3 separate regions of the Homo sapiens genome follow, and regions 2 and 3 are each linked to region 1. Evidence: fine-mapped expression QTL. A gene starts in region 1. Each other region holds a variant in brackets. All regions are shown on one strand. Distances are between the middles of the regions.

Region 1 (6,037 bases):
ACTGTGCCTGGCCATTTTTTTTTTTTTAAGACAGGGTCTCGCTCTATTACCCAGGCTGGAGTGCAGTGGCTGCAATCTCAGCTCAACTGCAATCTCTGCCTCCCAGGTTCAAGCGATTCTCATGCCTTAGCTTCACGAGTAGCTGGGATTACAGGCGCGCACCACCATGCCCAGCTAATTTTTGTATTTTCAGTAGAGACAGGGCTTCATCATATTGGCCAGGCTGGTCTCGAACTCCTGACCTCAGGTCATGTGCCTGCCTCAACCTCCTAAAGTGCTGGGATTACATTGCACCTGACCATTTTTAAATTTTTATTTGTTTTTGAAATAGAGTCTCGATCTGTGATCCAGGCTGGAGTTCAGTGGTGTGATCATAGCTCACTGCAGCCTCAAACTCCGGGCTCAAGTGAGCCTCCCACGTAAGCCTCTCATGTAGCTGGAACCACAGGTTATGCAACACCACACCCAGCTAATTTTTAAATTTTTTGTAGATATGGTTGCGGGTCTCACTATATTGTCCAGGCTTCGGCCTCCCAAAGCGCCGGGATTACAGAACTGTGAGCTACCATGCCTGGCCAGCTTTTGTGGTTTTTAAAAAGCCTTATTTTAAATTTTCTATTTTGTTTTGTATGGCGGGCACTCACTCCACGGCCACAGTGATCTCTTGAAATACTAGTCTGCCCATGTTCTTACTTTCTCCTTAATACCAAAAATAATCCAAGATTCTCAGCAGGACTCTGGTGACTTTGCCTCTTTGTTTCTCTCTCCATTTGCTGCCTCACACTTATTTAAGTGCTTTCATAGTCCCAGGGAAGCAAGCTCTGTGTATGCATTTCCTCCAGTTGTTTTCTGGGCCTGGAATGCTAATCTTATTTTTCTTTGCCTGGTTAGTAATTACTTCCTTTTGAAAACTCTGATGTCATCTGTCAGAAAACCTCCGTGGTCCTTCCTCTGAGCCCAGGCCCCTGGCCCTCAGCTCTGGGCATGTCTCTACTTTTTAAAATCCTCTCCTTTCCATTTAATAAACCACATAACATAATTTTGTTTTTATTTATTTATATTTTTGAGACAGAGTCTCGTTCTCTCACCCAGGCTGAAATGCAGTGGTGTGATCTCAGCTCACTGAGAAAACCTCCATTTCCCAGGTTCAAGCGATTCTCCTGCCTCAGCCTCCTGAGTAGCTGGGATTACAGGCGTGAGCCATGATGCCTGACTAATTTTTTGTATTTTTAGTAGAGATGGGGTTTCACCATGTTGGCCAGGCTGGTCTCGAACTCCTGACCTCAGGTGATCCACCCACCTTGGCCTCCCAAAGTGCTAGGATTACAGGCATGAGCCACCACGCCTGGCCTAATTTTGTTATTTTGATCTATGAGTGTCCTCGTCCTGAGGGTACTATTACTATTTCATCTTTGTAGCCTAGCATGGCGCCCATGAAATGTGTTTGTGGCTGAAAGGAACCTATCTTTGGTCACCAATGACCCAACAATTTTGGCCACATATGTTGGGCTCAGACTCCCTAAACTATCAAAATCATGTGCTTATATTATAAGTGCCTCCAGAACACAAATCCCTTTCACAGGGCTTGAAATGTATCAAGTCACTATTAATCATCTTAGGCCAAGGCTCCGAGTCTGGGCTACTCCAGAACCTGGAGGGGAGTTTTTTTTGTTTTTTTTTTGTTTGTTTGTTTTTTGAGACAAGGTCTTGCTCTGTCACCCAGGCCGAGTGAAGTGGTGTGATAAAGGCTCACTGCAGCCTCGACCCCCAAGGCTCAAGTGATCATCCCAACTCAGTCTCCCGAGTAACTGGAACCGGCTTTTTTTCTTTTTCATTTTTTTTTTTTTTTTTTGTAGAAGAGGGGTTTCGCTATGTTACCCAGGCTGATCTCTAGTTCTTGGGTTCAAGCGATCCTCCCAACTCGGCCTCCCAAAGTGGTGGCATTCCAGGGGTGATGGCTTTTGGATGCCTCCCAAAGTGATGGCTATTCACGGCGCCCGGCCTGGGAAATCTTATTTCCAGGAAATATTCTCCAGTTGCGCTCTCCTGGAAAGCAGCACAATGGGCCTCCCGGCTCCGTGGGCGCGCAGTCCCACCCGCCTGCCCCGCACCCCACCCGCGTACTCTCCACCCCACCCGTTCCCACCCTGTCTGGGTTTTCGGGTGTTCACCATTGAGGTGGGAGCCACATCTGCGCCCCGTGACCTGGCGAACCTCATTGAACACTTCTGCCCGACCCCCGCAGCAGCAGCGCGACCGGATGGCATGGGTGTCACCACGCGGTGGCCACTCTCACTGCTGCGAAGCGCCGGCGGCGGGACCTCGGAGGGGGCGCCCTCGGGGTGCGAGGCCCGGCACTCCGGAAATCCCCCGGGAGGGAGGGGTTGGGAGAAATAAATCCTTTTCTCCAGAGTTGCGCAAGAGCCAGCGCGGTAGGGCCAGAGTGGGAAGGCCAGAGCGGGCGTCCCCGCCAGTGACCCCACGCCGCCCGTCCGCGCCCAACCCGGCCTCCGCCGAGTGTCCAAACCAAAAGCGAAAGGAACCCGACCCCGCGTCCCCTCCGGCGGCTCCGTAGTCGCGTCCGCTTGGAGCTCGCCGGGCGCCTCCGACCCTGCCGGGCCGCTTTGTGACTTCACTCGTTTCGCAACAAGCCCGGGCAGCCCGCGCCCCACCCACTCTGGCCCGGCAGCCTCGCCGCCCGCAGCCTCGCTCCGCTCCTCGCGCTTCCCCTCCCTCCGGGGCTGGGCCTGCCCCGGCCGTCGCGGAGCCTCCCCTCCCACCGTCCGTGAGTGTACGCGCCCGGCCGCCGCCTCCAGGCAGCCCGGAGCAACCCGGCGCCCGGCCCCGCTGGGCGCAGCACTCCGTCGGCGGCGGCGGCGGCGCGATGCTGTGCTTCCTGAGGGGAATGGCTTTCGTCCCCTTCCTCTTGGTGACCTGGTCGTCAGCCGCCTTCATTATCTCCTACGTGGTCGCCGTGCTCTCCGGGCACGTCAACCCCTTCCTCCCGTATATCAGGTGAGTGGCAGGGTGGGCGTCAGGGCCCCAGGAGCAGGCACAGGGACCACAGGGAGCGCTGCCGACGGGGAGGGAAGGCGTCCGGACCCAGCTTGGGGCGTCGTGTGGTCAGGCAGAGGTGGGAGCAGGAGGAGAGGTGCTCCCGATAGCCTGGGATGTTTAGGGAGGCAGCGGGTGCGGCGCTGAGCACTTCTGCCTGTACCCGGAGCATGGAACAGGGTGGCAGCAAGGAGAGGTTCAGGATAGATGGTAGAGCTTTCATTCTGGGTATGGGACAGAATCTCAGCAGGACGTTCTTAGGCGATATTGAAACAAGATGGGTTCTGATAGATGACATATATTATACAAGAGGTAGATCCAGGTATATGCTAAACAGCCACTATTTTCACTTCTGCATCCCAACATCCCTTGAAGTGGATGTTTGGGCTTATTATTCCCGCAAGCGAGCGGTGGTGTAAAGTTGATGAAATATCATCAACGTGACACTGATGTCACACTAGTTAATGGTAGGAGCAGAATTCACACCCGGCCATGCAGAAAGCAACACTGTGCTGCCCCCAGGTCTCTGGGAGTCTGGCTTAAATTCTCTGGAGCTGCACCAGACACCTCTGGGCACTGTGACCCCAAAGTCCTCAACTTGTCAACAACTTGTGACATCTTTTGTGTTATTTTACCCATTCACTTTTCCTGTGCTTTGGCCTCTACCTTCCTGAGGGGCACTTCAGTGCCAGGGACAGTGGTCTGATCCTCCTATGTGGGTTCCAGCTCAGTGCCTTTCTCATAGTGGCAGGATTCTTTAAACGTTAGAACCATCCATCCTTATCTAAGTAGTGTGACCCCTCTGGACAGGCATTGGTTGGTGAACGGATGATAAGGTTGGTGACACCCAAGGTTTGTTACTGCTATGATAGAAAATGTAGGGCGTCTTCTTCCCTGCAGCCATTCTGTCTGGTGAGCAATGTTCTGTGTTTTTTTGTTTGTTTGTTTGTTTTTTTCCTTTTTTTGGGGGTGGGGGTGAGGAGTGTGGAGAAAGGGGAAACAAAGATCGAGCAAGAGGGGACTAGCATTTTTTAAAATTTTTTTTATTTTTTTGAGACAGAGTCTTGTTCTGTCGCCCAGGCTGGAGTGCAGTGACACAATCTCGGCTCACCGCAACCTCTGCCTCCCGGGTTCAAGCGATTCTCCTGCCTCAGCCTCCCAAGTAGCTGAGATTACAGGCGTGCACCACCACACCTGGCTTAATTTTTTTGTATTTTTAGTAGAGACAGGGTTTCACTATGTTGGTCAGGCTGGTCTCAAATTCCTGACCTCAAGTGATCCTCTTGCCTTGGCCTCCCAAAATGCTAGGATTACAGGTGTGAGCCAGTGTTCCCAGGGAACCAGCATTTACAAGATGCAGGGAATACAGCAATAGGTAGAATAGTGCAAATTTGCAGTAATGATGGTGGTTTTTGCCTATGAAAGGAGATGTTATGTATATCAAGATGTTCTCATCTGGCCTTTCGGTTTTTTCCATTTATTGTTATTATTTTTTATTTTCAGTAGAGACAAAGTCTCACTATATTGCCCAGGCTGGTCTTAAACTCCTGGGCTCAAGCATTCCCCTTGCTTTGGCCTCCCAGAGTGTTGGGATTACAGGCGTGAGCCACCACGCCTGGCCCTCCCATCTGGTATTATGCTTGGAAGAAACCTAGGCTTGGTTTCTCATGGCACATCTCAGGCCCAAGTGCCATCATCTTGCTTCTGAAGCAGGATAGATCCTTCTAGACTTGTGTAAAAGTAAAGACCTGCTCAGCTGGGCACAGTGGCTCACGCCTGTAATCCCAGCACTTTGGGAGGCCGAGGCTGGCGGATCATGAGGTCAAGAGATCGAGACCATCCTGGCCAACATGGTAAAACCTCATCTCTACTAAAAATACAGAAATTAGCTGGGCGTGGTGGTGCACGCCTGTAGTCCCAGCTACTCGGGAGGCTGAGGCAGAATTGCTTGAACCCGGGAGGCAGAGGTTGCAGTGAGCCGAGACAGAGCTACTGCACTCCAGCCTGGTGACAGAGCGAGACTCCATCTCAGAAAAAAAAAAAAAAGGTAAAGAGCTGCTCTACCTGCAGTGCTGCTTCTTTTGTTTGTTTGTTTGTTTGTTTTTTCAGACAAAGTCTCGCTCTGTTGCCCAGTCTGTGGTGTGGTGGTGGGATCACAGCTCACTGCAGCCTCGACCTCCTGGGCTCCATTGATCCTCCCACCTCAGCCTCCTGAATAGCTGGGGACTGTAGATAGGCATGCACAACCATGCCCAGCTAATTTTTAATTTTTTTTTGTATTTGTAGAGATGGCATCTTGCTGTGTCCTGCAATGCTTCCTTTTTTTTTTTTTTTTTTTTTTTTTTTAAGACAGAGTCTTGCTCTGTCGCCCAGGCTGGAGTGCAATGGTGCAATCTCGGCTCAGTGCAACCTCCACCTCCTGGTTCAAGCAATTCTCCTGACTCAGCCTCCCAAGTAGCTGGGATTACAGGCACCTGCCACCACGCCCAGCTAATATTTTTGTATTTTTAGTAGAGACGGGGTTTCACCATGTTGGCCAGGCTGGTCTCAAGCTCCTGACCTCAGATGATCCACCTGCCTCAGCCTCCTAAAGTGTTGGGATTACAGGCGTGAGCCACCACACCCAGCCTGCAGTGCTTCTTATTGAGAAAACAGTAGTCATGTTTGTCCCAGATCTGAAGGTTGAGGACAGATAATACGTGATATTCATTGGCCAGGCTGTCAAAGGCAGGTTTTGAATGTTCATAGAGGTGTCTGATGTAGTTGTGATTAATATCACTCTAAGGTGAACTTGAAATGGGAGACATTCAGAAATGGGAAAATAAGCTGACAAGGTGAACCACTTATGAGATGCTCAAATCACAGACCCTACAAGGAAGGGGTTTAAAATTTAACAAGGAAGCCTTCAGGAAAAGCAGAATTACAGGAGAAAAAGGCATGCCCCCTTGTTGCCAGGAGTTCTCAGCCAACACACAACAAACAT
Region 2 (5,921 bases), 37 kb after region 1:
GAGCTGAGATCACACCACTGCACTCCAGCCTGAGTGAAAGAGCGAGACTCCATCTCAAATACATAAATAAATAAATAAATTTGGATATTAGAAAATTAAAAATTACACATATTTCTGTGGGATGGTGCTGCTCTAGAGAGCTCCTTAAACTTCACAACTTACATTAAGTTTCACTGAATGAAGCTTTCTCCCATTCCATTCTGAATTAATAATTTTCCCTTACAGTCATTGCTGTACCCAGTTCTTTTCTGTCTACTATGGTACATTCTCTGGGTCTGGTCCAACAAAGTTGTGATATTTCTGAGAGCTGAGACCAAGTTTTCCCTTCTCCCACCCCCAGACCAGAATGGTACCTGGTGCACTGAAGATGGAGCTAAGAATAAATAAACGAAATAATTAAGAGGCTTTTAAACTATTAGAAACAGATGTGAGGTGATGAAATGATCAGAGAATCTTCTGTGCTCTCTACTTCTTTTATTTTGAGAATCAGAAGCATTAAACTCTGCACAATTTGCGGGGGGTTGGAGTTAAGAGAGATGACGCTGACTCTGAATTCAGAGGAGGCTCTAAACTTTCCTTGGCTCAACATTTTTTTTTTTTTTTTTTTTGAGACAGAGTCTCACCCTGTTGCCCAGGTTGGAGTGCAGTGGTGCAAATTCAGCTCACTGCCACCTCCCAGGTTCAAGCGATTCTCCTGCTTCAGCCTCCCAGGTAGCTGGGATTACAGGTGCACGCCACCATGCCCAGCTAATTTTTGTGTTTTTAGTAGAGACTGGGTTTCACCATGTTGGTCAGACTAGTCTCGAACTCCTGACCTCAGGTGATTCGCCTGCCTCAGCCTCCCAAAGTGCTGGGATTACAGGTGTGAGCCACTGCGCCCGGCCTAACATTTTGAATTTCTAATATTTTGCAGACTTTTTAGAGCATCCCATTTCTCTCTAGCTTTCTTTTTTGCATTCTAAGTTCAATCAAAATGGTTATCACTGCCTTCATGCAGAAAGTATTGCTGGTGGAAGATAGGAGCCTCAGCCCCTGGCATTATTAGGCTGGACTGTAGGCATGTGTCAGTCATCCCTGAAGTCTGATATGGGGCGAATCTCTTTGATTTGCCAGATCTTTGGTCCAGGAAGGAAGGGCTCACCTTATACCCAATTACCCAACAGAAGTCTGTTTTTTAAAGATAATAGTTTGAGTTTCTGTAGCTTGTTTTTGTATATGAGCCTTGGCACTTTGGAATTTAAAATTTTCCTTAAAGCTGTTACCTTGGAAATAGTATTTTAGGCCGGGCACGGTGGCTCATGCCTGTAATCCCAGCACTTTGGGAGGCCGAGGTGGGCAGATCACCTGAGGTCAGGAGTTCAAGACCAGCCTGACCAACATGGAGAAACACCGTCTCTACTAAAAATACAAAAAATTAGCCAGGCATGGTGGTGGGTGCTTGTAATCCCAACTATTCAGGAGGCTGAGGCAGGAGAATGCTTGAACCCAGGAGGTGGAGGTTGCAGTGAGCTGAGATCGCGCCATTGCACTCCAGCCTGGGTGACAGAGCGAGAGTACGTCTCAAAAAAAAAAAAAAAAAAAAAAAGGAAAGGAAAATAGTATTTTAGGGAAAAAGTATTTTTATTCAGTGGGAAGTATTCAAAAAGAACCATCCTGGACTGCTGCGTCAGTCATTTTGACCGAATTTAAACAGCTAGTTTAAATGGGAAGATCCAGAAACATGTAGGGTTGTGCAAAATGTAGTGACAAGTTTTAATAAATTTTACTATACACACTGGAAAACTATTGCGAAGGTATTTCCGTGTTGTGATTTAACTCTCATCATTGAATTTGAAGTTTGAGTTTATAAGAAGCTAATATAACTGGTTTGATTGTAGAAATGTTGGTATTAACATTTTAATTGATGATAGAAATGTTGGTATTAACATTTTAACACCTTATAATGATTATGTTATTAGGAGAATAATGTAGTCTTAACATTAAAGGAACTGTTGTGTGCTGTAGTTTCCTTAACTGTTTACTTCTTTCAGTGATTGTCTGTGCTTCACTAATTTCCATAACCAAGCTGGAGTGGAATCCAAGAGAAAAGGTAACATTTAAGTTGTTGTGAATGTGGTTGTCGGACGTGGTTATGTGAGCTTGTGGCCAGGCTAGGCATAGGGAAGATCACTGCCGTTCCTTAGAACAAGTTGCAAAATGTCAAATAAACATGGCATGTAATCAATTTACTGTCCAATCATTTGGCAGTATGTAGTAATTAGCTATCAGGGTAATTCCAAATGCTTCCTGGAAGTATTTTCAAAATTTTGAGTTCCTAATTTCTTTCTTTCTTCTTCTTCTTCTTTTTTTTTTTTTTTGAGACAGAGTCTTGCTGTGTTGCCCAGGCTGGAATGCAGTGGTGCAATCTCAGCTTACTGCAACCTCTGTGTCCCAGGCTCAAGCGATTCTCCTGCCTCAGTCTCCCAAGTAGCTGGGACTACAGGCACCTGCCACAAGGCCCAGCTAATTTTTGATTTTGTTTTGTTCTTTTCTGAGACAGAGTCTCGCTCTGTCACCCAGGCTGGAGTGAAGTGGCGTGATCTCAGCTCACTGCAACCTTTGCCTCCTGGGTTCAAGTGATTCTTGTGCCTCAGCCTCCCGAGTAGCTGGGACCACAGGCGTGCGCCACATGCCTGGCTAATTTTTGTATTTTTAGTAGAGACAGGGTTTTTCCCATGTTGACCAGGCTGGTTTGGAGCTCCTGGCCTCAAGTGATCCCCCCGTCTCGGCCTCCCAAAGTGCTGGGATTATAGGCGTGACCCACCGCACCCGTCCCTCTAATTTCTTCCTTTTCTTTCTTTCTTTTTTTTTTTTTGAGACAGAGTCTCGTTCTGCCGCCCAGGCTGGAGTGCAGTGGCACAATCTTGACTCAGTGCAAGCTCTGCCTCCCGGGTTCATGCCATTCTCCTGCCTCAGCCTCCTGAGTAGCTGGGACTATAGGCGCCTGCCACCACCCCCGGCTACTTTTTTGTATTTTTAGTAGAGATGGGGTTTCACCGTATTAGCCAGGATGGTCTCGATCTCCTGACCTCGTGATCTGCCCACCTCGGCCTCCCAAAATGCTGGGATTACAGGTGTGAGCCACCGCACCTGGCCTTTAATTTCTTTCTTAAACACTTCAACTATCTATCTTTAGTAAAAGAGGGTAGAGGGACAGTGTGAATGAAGGTGTTTGGTGGTGAAAGGGAGCGTGGAATGTTAAGTAGAGAGGATGATACCAGCTCCAGTGTGGTGGATAGTTCATTTCAGGATAGAGTGAGAAATCACTGCAGCCGGGGATAACTGTGCAAGGGTGTAGTGGCTGTAAGAGGCAGGCAGAGAGGCTTGTACTTGGCCTAGGTGACCAGAGTAAGACTTTGAAGACTTTTTTTTTTTTTGAGACGGAGTTTCGCCCTTGTTGCCTAGGCTGGAGTGCAATGGCGCGATCTCGGCTCACTGCAACCTCTGCCTCTCAGGTTCAAGCA[G/A]TTCTCCTGTCTCAGCCTCCCAAATAGCTGGGATTACAGGCACTAGCTGGGATTACAGGCGTGCACCACCATGCCCAGCTAGTTTTTGTATTTTTAGTAGAGACGGGATTTCACCGTGTTAGCCAGGATGGTCTTGATCTCTGCACCTCGTGATCTGCCCTCCTTGGCCTCCTAAAGTGCTGGGATTACAGGCGTGAACCACCACGCCCAACCTGCAGACTTTCGAACGGTAAAGCAAATAGAAAGAGTATTATTAGATGAGTGTTAGACAGAAGCAATGCCTGGGATGGCTTGGAGAGCTTGGCATTAGGAGGGCAAGGAGAAGGCAGTTCTACTAGTTCACGTTTCAAATAGGGGAAATCTGATGGGTGTTGGCAAATGATTAACACAAGAATGAAGTGGCATGATGAATCAAAGATGACTTCTAAGTTTTTATCTTAGGTGAACCAAAGAATTTATTCCCTTGACCAGAAATAAGGCCCCTAACAGGGATAAATAATTTAGTAGGTGGAAGTGGATGAGTTTGGTTAGAGTTGATGATTCTGAGGATATGATGAGATATCGAGGTTAGAAACATGGGCCTAGGCCAGGTGCTGTGGTTCATGCCTGTAATCCCAGCACTTTGGGAGGCTGAGGCAGGAGGATTGCTTGAGTCCAGGAGATGAAGACCAGTCAGGGTAACACAGTAAGATCCTGCCTCTACAAAAATTAGCCAGACGTTGTGGCATGCGCCTGTAGTCCCAGCTACTTGGGAAGCTGAGGTGGAAGGATCACTTGCACTCCGGTGGGCCTAGACTTCTGGTGGGACTGGGAGTCGTCAGAGTGTAGGGTAGAGTTGTTAGAGTATGGGGTAGACCAGGACATTTTGGACCAAGCATCAGAACACATGGAACCAAATGTTTGACATTGAGATCAACCCATCCTGTTAGATACCTGTAGTAGTGGTTCATCTAGACGCCTTATAGGAGAATCAAGGATGCCCCAGGAAAGAAGAGAGTTAGTGAGAGACAGAGGATTCTTTCCCCCAAGGATCAGGTGGAAGAATACCTCCAGCAAAGGAGAAGTAAAGGGATCATGGACCAGAGAGAAGAACTAGACTTGTGCTGTATGGTAGACCTCATTGATGAGTCCCTACCACATGCAAGACTGTGAAAGATTATAGAGGGCAGGGTGGCCATGGGATAGAGGATCCTGAGGGATTTTATAGTTCAGAGGGGCAAACAGCCAGTTGTCAATGGCTAAATGTAATACTTTGAAGAATAAAAAAATGCTGAACTGGACTTCAGACAACACATTGTGGAAATGCAGAAGCAATAGCAATTAATCCTAACGATGGAATGAGAGGAGATACGATCCCAGAGACTAAAGGACATTTTTCAAAGGCAAGGGAAATGGCTAACTATGGCATATGCAGCTGAATAGCCTTTAGGAATGAAGTCCCTCAATTTGGGCAATAAGGGAGTCAGTGATGTTTGTCAAAAAGTAGTTTCAGTAAAACGCCGAGGTTAGAAGCCAATGGCAAGAAGTTAAATAGTGAGAGGGATGGTTCTTTCATTCAGCTATCAACCAAATGTTTATTGAGTCCTGTTCTGGACTGGAGGTAAGAGGTAAAGGAGGAACACCAGGGTGGCTAGAGGAGACAGCAGGATTTCCCAATATGGAGAACTCTGGCAGGTAATGGAAGCCTGCCAAGACAAGAGAGAGACAGAAGATGGTGAGGAAGAGAATGATCCAGACAGGAGATCAAAAAGTGCTTCTTGGCCGGGTGCGGTGGCTCAGGCCTGTAATTCCAACACTTTGGGAGGCCAAGGCGGGTGGATCACTTGAGGCTAGAGTTCAAAACTAGCCTGGCCAATATGGCGAAACCCTGTCTGTACTAAAAAAAAAAAAAATTTTTGGTGTAGTGGCACACACCTGTAGTCCCAGCTACTTGGGAGGCTGAGGCAGGAGAATTGCTTGTACCCAGGAGTTGGAGAGCTGGAGGCTGCAATGAGCCGAGATCATGCCAATGCACTCCAGCCTGTGCAACAAGAGTGAGACTCCATCTCAAAAAAAAAAAAAAAAGCCTTCTTTAAAATCTAACCTTAAAATGGTCAAATTCGTCAATAGGTTAGACCTAGGCAAAAGGCAGGTTTTTTTCTTTCTTATATATGGGGAATTAGCCCCATCATGCGAAGGGGGTTCAGTTCCTCTTTCCGTTGGAGAGAACCTCTTTCTGAAAGTGAGACCGCATAGCGGAGCAGTTCAGGTGTACTTTACTTTTCAGCCACTCGGGGGAGACCTTCTATCACAAACCCGCTGCTGGGAAGGGCTTATCGAAGTATATTCCCAGGCAGTTAAAAATCTGTTATATTCCACTTTCTATCTTAAAAATGTGAAAAGCACATGGTTTTCTATTCACTCCATAAATGACTGCGC
Region 3 (6,037 bases), 51 kb after region 1:
AGGCGTGAGCCACTGCGCCCGGCCCCAGATTCATCTTCTAAAATGAAGGGTAGCAGTTTTCCAGACCCATGTTGGAGGTGGCAGTGACCTCCAGAGTCCATGCTTGGAAAATGCTGAGGAAGATGTCAACAATCTGCCTTGTGGTTTAAGACGGGGTGGCGTGGGGTGCCTGGAAAGCCTGTGGTTTAGGTAGTTCCTCAGCAAGGAGCACTGCTCTGTGCCCCACCATCCTCAAGGCCAGTTCCACCTCTGGACGACTCAGTTACATGAGCTGATAAAGTCTCTAACTTCAATAAACTGGAGTTAGACTTCAGATGATTTTACCTGTAAGAGTCCTGACTGATAATGGATACACAAGAGTTCCCCTAATATGAAAATACAGTAAACAACTATCATCTAGAGTCATTTTTATTTCATTTTTTTCTTTTGCATTTTTTTTTCAGTACAGACTTGCCTTCACAGGAAAGATCATTTTTATATAAGTGGATTCAGCTGCCCCCACTCACAACCCTCACCCCCTGAACCATTTATTTCAAAAAATTTGAGTAATATTTTCACAATTCAAAACTCAAAACAATATGAAAAGGTATACTGTGAAAAGCCTTTTTGCTTTTCCCTACCTGCATTTACTCAATTCACTCTCTCCTTGCAGATATCCACTTTTTTTTTTTTTTTTTTTTTTTTAACGACAGAGCCTTGCTCTGTCGCCCAGGCTGAAGTGGAGTAGCATGATCTCAGCTCACTGCAACCTATGCCTCCTGGGTTCAAGCAGTTCTCCCTGCCTCAGCTTCCCAAGTAGCTGGTATTACAGGTGCCCACCACCACACCCAGCTAACTTTTGTATTTTAGTTGAGACAGGGTTTCACCATGTTGGTCAACTCCTGACCTCAAGTGATCCGCCTGCCTTGGCCTCCCAAAGTGCTGAGATTACAGGTGTGAGCCACTGTGCTCAGCCTAGGTATCCACTTTTTATCAGATTTTTATGAAAATACAAGCCAAAACAAATATTTTAACGTTTTCCTTTTCATTTTCACCCCAAATTAGTATACTGTAAGAACAGTTTTGAGCCTTACTTTTTTGACATAGCAATGTATCTTGGAGATGTTTCCTTTATCAATACATAGAGATCTCCCTCATTTTTAAGGTTAATTTGCTTTGTTTTATACCTTACAGTATTCCATTGTATGGCTGTGCCATCATTTATTTAGCAAGTTCCCTATCTGATGAGCAATTATGTGGTTTCCAAATTTTTGCAATTACAAGTAGATGACCTTGTACATACATCATATCACACATGTGCAAGGAAATCTCTAGGACAAATTCCAGTGAGTGGGATGTTGGAAACTTCATCTGTTATTTTGCAAATGTTATCTTGCCTTTAGAACTTTTTTACTTGAATATTTTTGTTAGGAACCTCTTTTTCTTTTTTGTTTCTTTCTTTTTTTTTTTTTTTAAAGGCTGGTCAAGTGCAGCAGTGAGAGTGGAGAAGGAAGAAAAAAATCTGTAACTGGGCTGGGCATGGTGGCTCACGCGTGTGATCCCAACATTTTGGGAGGCTGAGGCGGGTAGATCATTTGAGTCTAGGAGTTCAAGACCAGCCTAAGTAACATAGCAAGACCCCATCTCTACAAAAAAATTTAAAAAATTAGCCAAGAATGGTGGTGCAAGCTGTGGTCTCAGCTACTCAGGAGGCAAGAGGGGGGTATCGCTTGAGCCTGGGGAGGCAGAGGTTGCAGTGAGCAGAGATCGTGCCACTGCACTCCAATCTAGGCTATAGAACGAGACTTTGTCTCAAAGAAAACTAAACTAAAATAAATAAATCTGTAACTGGTTGCGATCAATTAGTTGTAAACACCACTGCACTCGGACAAGCCAGGAATCTTTGTGATTACACACATTTTCTTCTAACCTGAGGATGCTGAATATAAGTTCATGTTTCCTTGGTGACTCAGTCATCCATGACTGTAGATCAGGTGCAAATGTGGATTTTGCAGTAGATGGTGTGGGACAGAGGCCTGCCAACTTGGTCACGGGTCTTCTACACACACCTCTTCTGTTCCCTCTTTTATGTAACCACCTACTGCAGGGAATGCAAGGCTGTGTGCTCCTCTTTCTGCTGACAGCAGAACTCACCTATCTTCTGCCTCCTACCCCAACCCGGACATGTCTTCTTTTTATGGGCAAGAGTGTCTCCAGTTCACTTGGGTTTTTCATTATGATCTTGCAAACTTTTGCAATTAGTTGCAAAAGTTTTGTCAATGCCTCTTCCAGTTTGTACTCACTTCCTTTT[T/C]GGTATCTCGCTGAAGTCCTGTTACTTGTCTTACACTTCTTCCCTATCTTTTGAGAGGATGTATTTTTGTTGTTGTTGTTGTTGTTTTGTTTGTTTGTTTTAAATTTTGAGATGGAGTCTCGCTCTGTCACCAGGCTAAAGTGCAGTGGTGCGAGCTTGGCTCACTGCAACTTCGCCTCTCGGGTTCAAGTGATTCTCCTGCCTGAGCCTCCCGAGTAGCTGGGACGACAGGCGTGTGCCACCACGCCCAGCTAAGCTTTATATTTTTAGTAGAGACGGGGTTTCATCATGTTGGCTAGGATGGTCTTGATCTCTTGACCTCATGGTCCGCCCACTTCGGCCTCCCAAAGTGCTAGGATTACAGGCGTGAGCGACCATGCCCAGCTGGAGACGATTGTATTTTTACAGACATCAACAATCAAGCACAATATTCTCTCCTCTCTGGCAAAGTGATCCAGGACAGAACACCAGGGGCAACCCACAGACCTTTTGATCCTCCCTGACCTTGTAGCTTGGTGGTTACTGCAGAATGACTCAATGAGTGGGGGACACCAGCAATTCAGTAGTCAGAGAGAGAGAGAGAGAGAGAGAGGAAAGAAACTTTACCTTTGAGAAACTTAAAAATTGACTTGGAAATAATCAGCTTTATGTTTGCCTAAATGTATCCTTTATGTCATTTGGAAAAAGAAAATATTATTTGGAATTACCTATGGGGAGGCATCATAATTTTTTCAGTACCAGGTATTCAGGGACTTTCACCTAAAAACTAAGGATATTTCTTCATCTGCTTACATGATCACTTATGTTCTGTTAATACTGATTATTTCCTATATCACAGACACTGTAAGGAGGGCGTTTCCTCATAGTTAACCCTATTTTATTCATGAGGAAATTAAGATGTAGCGAGGTTGTCACCAGATACCAAATGATGGGGCTAGAACCAAACCCAGGACTGTGACTCCTACGGTTAACCTTTGCCATGCTGACAGTGTGATTCCCAGTCACTGCCTTAGGAGTATGAATTAATTTGTCAGCTTTTCTAGGGTTATATAATATAAGGCCTTGAGAAATGAAACCCTTAAGCTGGCAAGTTTAGAAAAATGGGTGAAATGTTTGGATTGCCACTTCAAAACGGCAGGTCCTGGTTGAAGTCTGGGCATCTAAGAATTGTGGGGGTGGGAGCAGGTGATAGGAATCAGGAGTAGAAACAGTAAGAGAGGGTTTGTATGATACACCTGGTCTTTGGTGGGAATGGGGATCAGTTCTTGTATGAGTCAGTTCTCACGCTGCTAATAAAGACGTACCAGAGACTGGGTAATTTATAAAGAAAAGAGCTTTAATTGGCTTACAGTTTCACATGGCTAGGGAGGCCTCAGGAAACTTATAATCACGGCGAAAGGGGAAGCAAACACATCCTTCTTCACATGGTGGCAGGAGAGAGAATGAGAGCCGAGCAAAGGGGGGGATGCCCCTTATAAAACCCCCACATCTCGTGTGAACTCAGTATCACAAGAACAGTATGGGGGAAACCGCCCTCATGATTCAATTATCTCCACCTGGGCCCCCCTTGACACGTGGGGATTATTACAATTCAAGATGAGATTTTAGGTGGGGACATAGCCAAGCCATATCAGTTCTCCTGCAACCACCACAGCCTGAGGAGGAGCACTGAAGAGGCCAAGGATTCCACTGCGCAGTGAGACAGGGTGCAGCAGGCTTTCAGTACGATTCAGGCTCTGGTGGCTGTGAGGTGTGGGTTCTTATGACTCTCAACTCCTGGTATCTTTTGCTTCTGGATGGTGCGGTAAGAGGGACTGGGGGTTGTCGTCCGTCTGTCTGGACTTCCCAAAGGAGAAGTCATGGTGAGGCCCAGGGAAAGGACCATCTAGGCTATCACAGGGCTGGGTAAAAGAAGTCCTCAGTGCTCACTTTTTAAAAAAGTTATTTTAATTTATTACTATTATCATTTTATTATTATGTTTGAACACTCTTGGTGACCATTATTATTACTTTACTGTGGTAAAATATAACATAAATTTTATCATCTTGGTGATTTTTTTTTTTTGAGACAGATCTCACTCTGCCACCCAGACTGGAGTGCAGTGGTGTGATCTTGGCTCACTGCAGCCTCAACCTCTGGGCTCAAGTGATCCTCCCACCTCAGCCTCCCAAGTAGCTGGGACTACAGGTGTGCACCACCGTGCTTGGCTAATTTTTGTATTTTTTGTAGCGATAGGGTCTCACTATGTTGCCTAGGCTGGCCTCAAACTCCTGGACTCAAGAGATCCTTTTGTCTGGGCCTCCCAAAGTGTTAGGATTATAGGCGTGAGCCACCACCACGCACGCCTGGCCGTCGTAGCCATTTTTAAGTGTGCAGTTCAGTGGTTTTGAATACATTCATAATGTTGTGCAACCATCACCACCATCCATCTCCAGAACCCTCTTCATCTTGTAAAACTGAAACTCTGTGCCCATTGAACAATAACTCCTGATTCCCTCTTGCCCCAGCCCCTGGCAACCATTATTCTACTTTCTGGCTCTATGATTTTGACTATTCTAGATACCTCATATAAGTGGAATCATACAGCATTTCTCTTTTTGTGACTGGCTTATTTCATTTAGCGTAATGTCTCAGCACCATCCATGTTGTAGCATGTGTTGGAATTTTTTCCATATTAAGGCTTAGTAAGATTCCATTGTACATTTATACCCACTTTGTTTACCAATCATCTGTTGATGGACACTTCAGTTGCTTCCACATTGTGAATAATGCTGCTACAAACATGTGTGTACAAATATTTCTTTGAGACCCTGCTTTAAATTCTTCTGGGTATATACCAAGAAGTGGGATTGCTGGATCATATGGAAATTCTATTTTTAATTTTTTGAGGAACCACCATACTGTTTTCCATAGCAGCTGTACCATTTTACAGTCCCACCAACAGTGCACAAGGATTCTAATTTCTTCACATCCTCGCCAACATTTGTTTTTTCCTATTTATTTATTTATTTGAGATTTGAGGGTCTTGGTATGTTACCCACGCTGGCCTCCAATTCCTTGGCTCAAGAGATCCTCATGCCTCAGCCTCTAAAGTAGCTGGGATTACAGGCACAAACCATAGCACCTGACATATTTTCCATTTTTTTGGTTAGTAGCCTTCCTAATGGGTGTGAGGTGATATCTCATAGTATTTTGGTTTGCATTTCCCTAAGAATTAATGATGTTGGTCATTTTTTCATGTGCTTATTGGTCACCTATATATCTTCTTTGGAGAAACATCTGTTCAGTTCGTTTTTGAATTGGGTTGTTTTCCTCAGTCCTCAGTCTTGTCACATGTATGGATGTGATATCAGATCAGCAGCATGTAAGTTAGTCTTCTTGGAGCTGAAGCAGCAGCAGGAAGTGGTGAGGACTCTGGCTCCTGGGTTCCAGCTCTCTTGCTCTCCCTTGCTCATCAGGCTAATATCAGCATGAGTGACAGGAAAGCCTGGAAGACTAACTTCACCTTCTTTAACAATCCTTTTACTCAGGGTCAGCCCAGAGTAGCAGGTTCTGGGTGCCACCTAAGACATCTGATTTAAGGTGAAGAGTGATGTATTTAGAATTGGCCAGTGCTTTGACAGCTGCAAACATAACCTTTAACACGCATATTAAAATGAATACTGAGCTTAGTTCAGTCTTTCATTTCCTTTTAATACTTGAAAAGCTACAGTTTTGTTTTAAAGTTCTCTTAAAAGGCTCTAGCA

The links.
Region 2: its variant is fine-mapped to the expression of DRAM1 in whole blood (TOPMed, PIP above 0.99).
Region 3: its variant is fine-mapped to the expression of DRAM1 in whole blood (GTEx, PIP 0.97).

The regions. Positions count from the first base shown.
Region 1 is chr12:101,874,906-101,880,942 of GRCh38, forward strand. It overlaps DRAM1 (DNA damage regulated autophagy modulator 1), which reads left to right and starts at 2,675. Exons shown (of 7, transcript NM_018370.3): 1 at 2,675-3,015. The coding sequence starts at 2,885. RefSeq lists enhancers at 2,079-2,861, 2,652-2,701, 2,862-3,643, 3,282-3,371, 3,512-3,561 and silencers at 2,312-2,471, 2,722-3,061.
Region 2 is chr12:101,912,144-101,918,064 of GRCh38, forward strand. It overlaps DRAM1 (DNA damage regulated autophagy modulator 1), which reads left to right. Exons shown (of 7, transcript NM_018370.3): 5 at 2,031-2,089. Among named protein-coding and RNA genes, the nearest start is that of DRAM1, 38 kb to the left of the region's middle. The variant G/A (reference allele first, on the strand shown) is at 3,504.
Region 3 is chr12:101,925,971-101,932,007 of GRCh38, forward strand. No RefSeq gene overlaps it. Among named protein-coding and RNA genes, the nearest start is that of DRAM1-AS1, 35 kb to the right of the region's middle. RefSeq lists a silencer at 4,422-4,471 and enhancers at 4,682-4,761, 5,581-5,700. The variant T/C (reference allele first, on the strand shown) is at 2,291.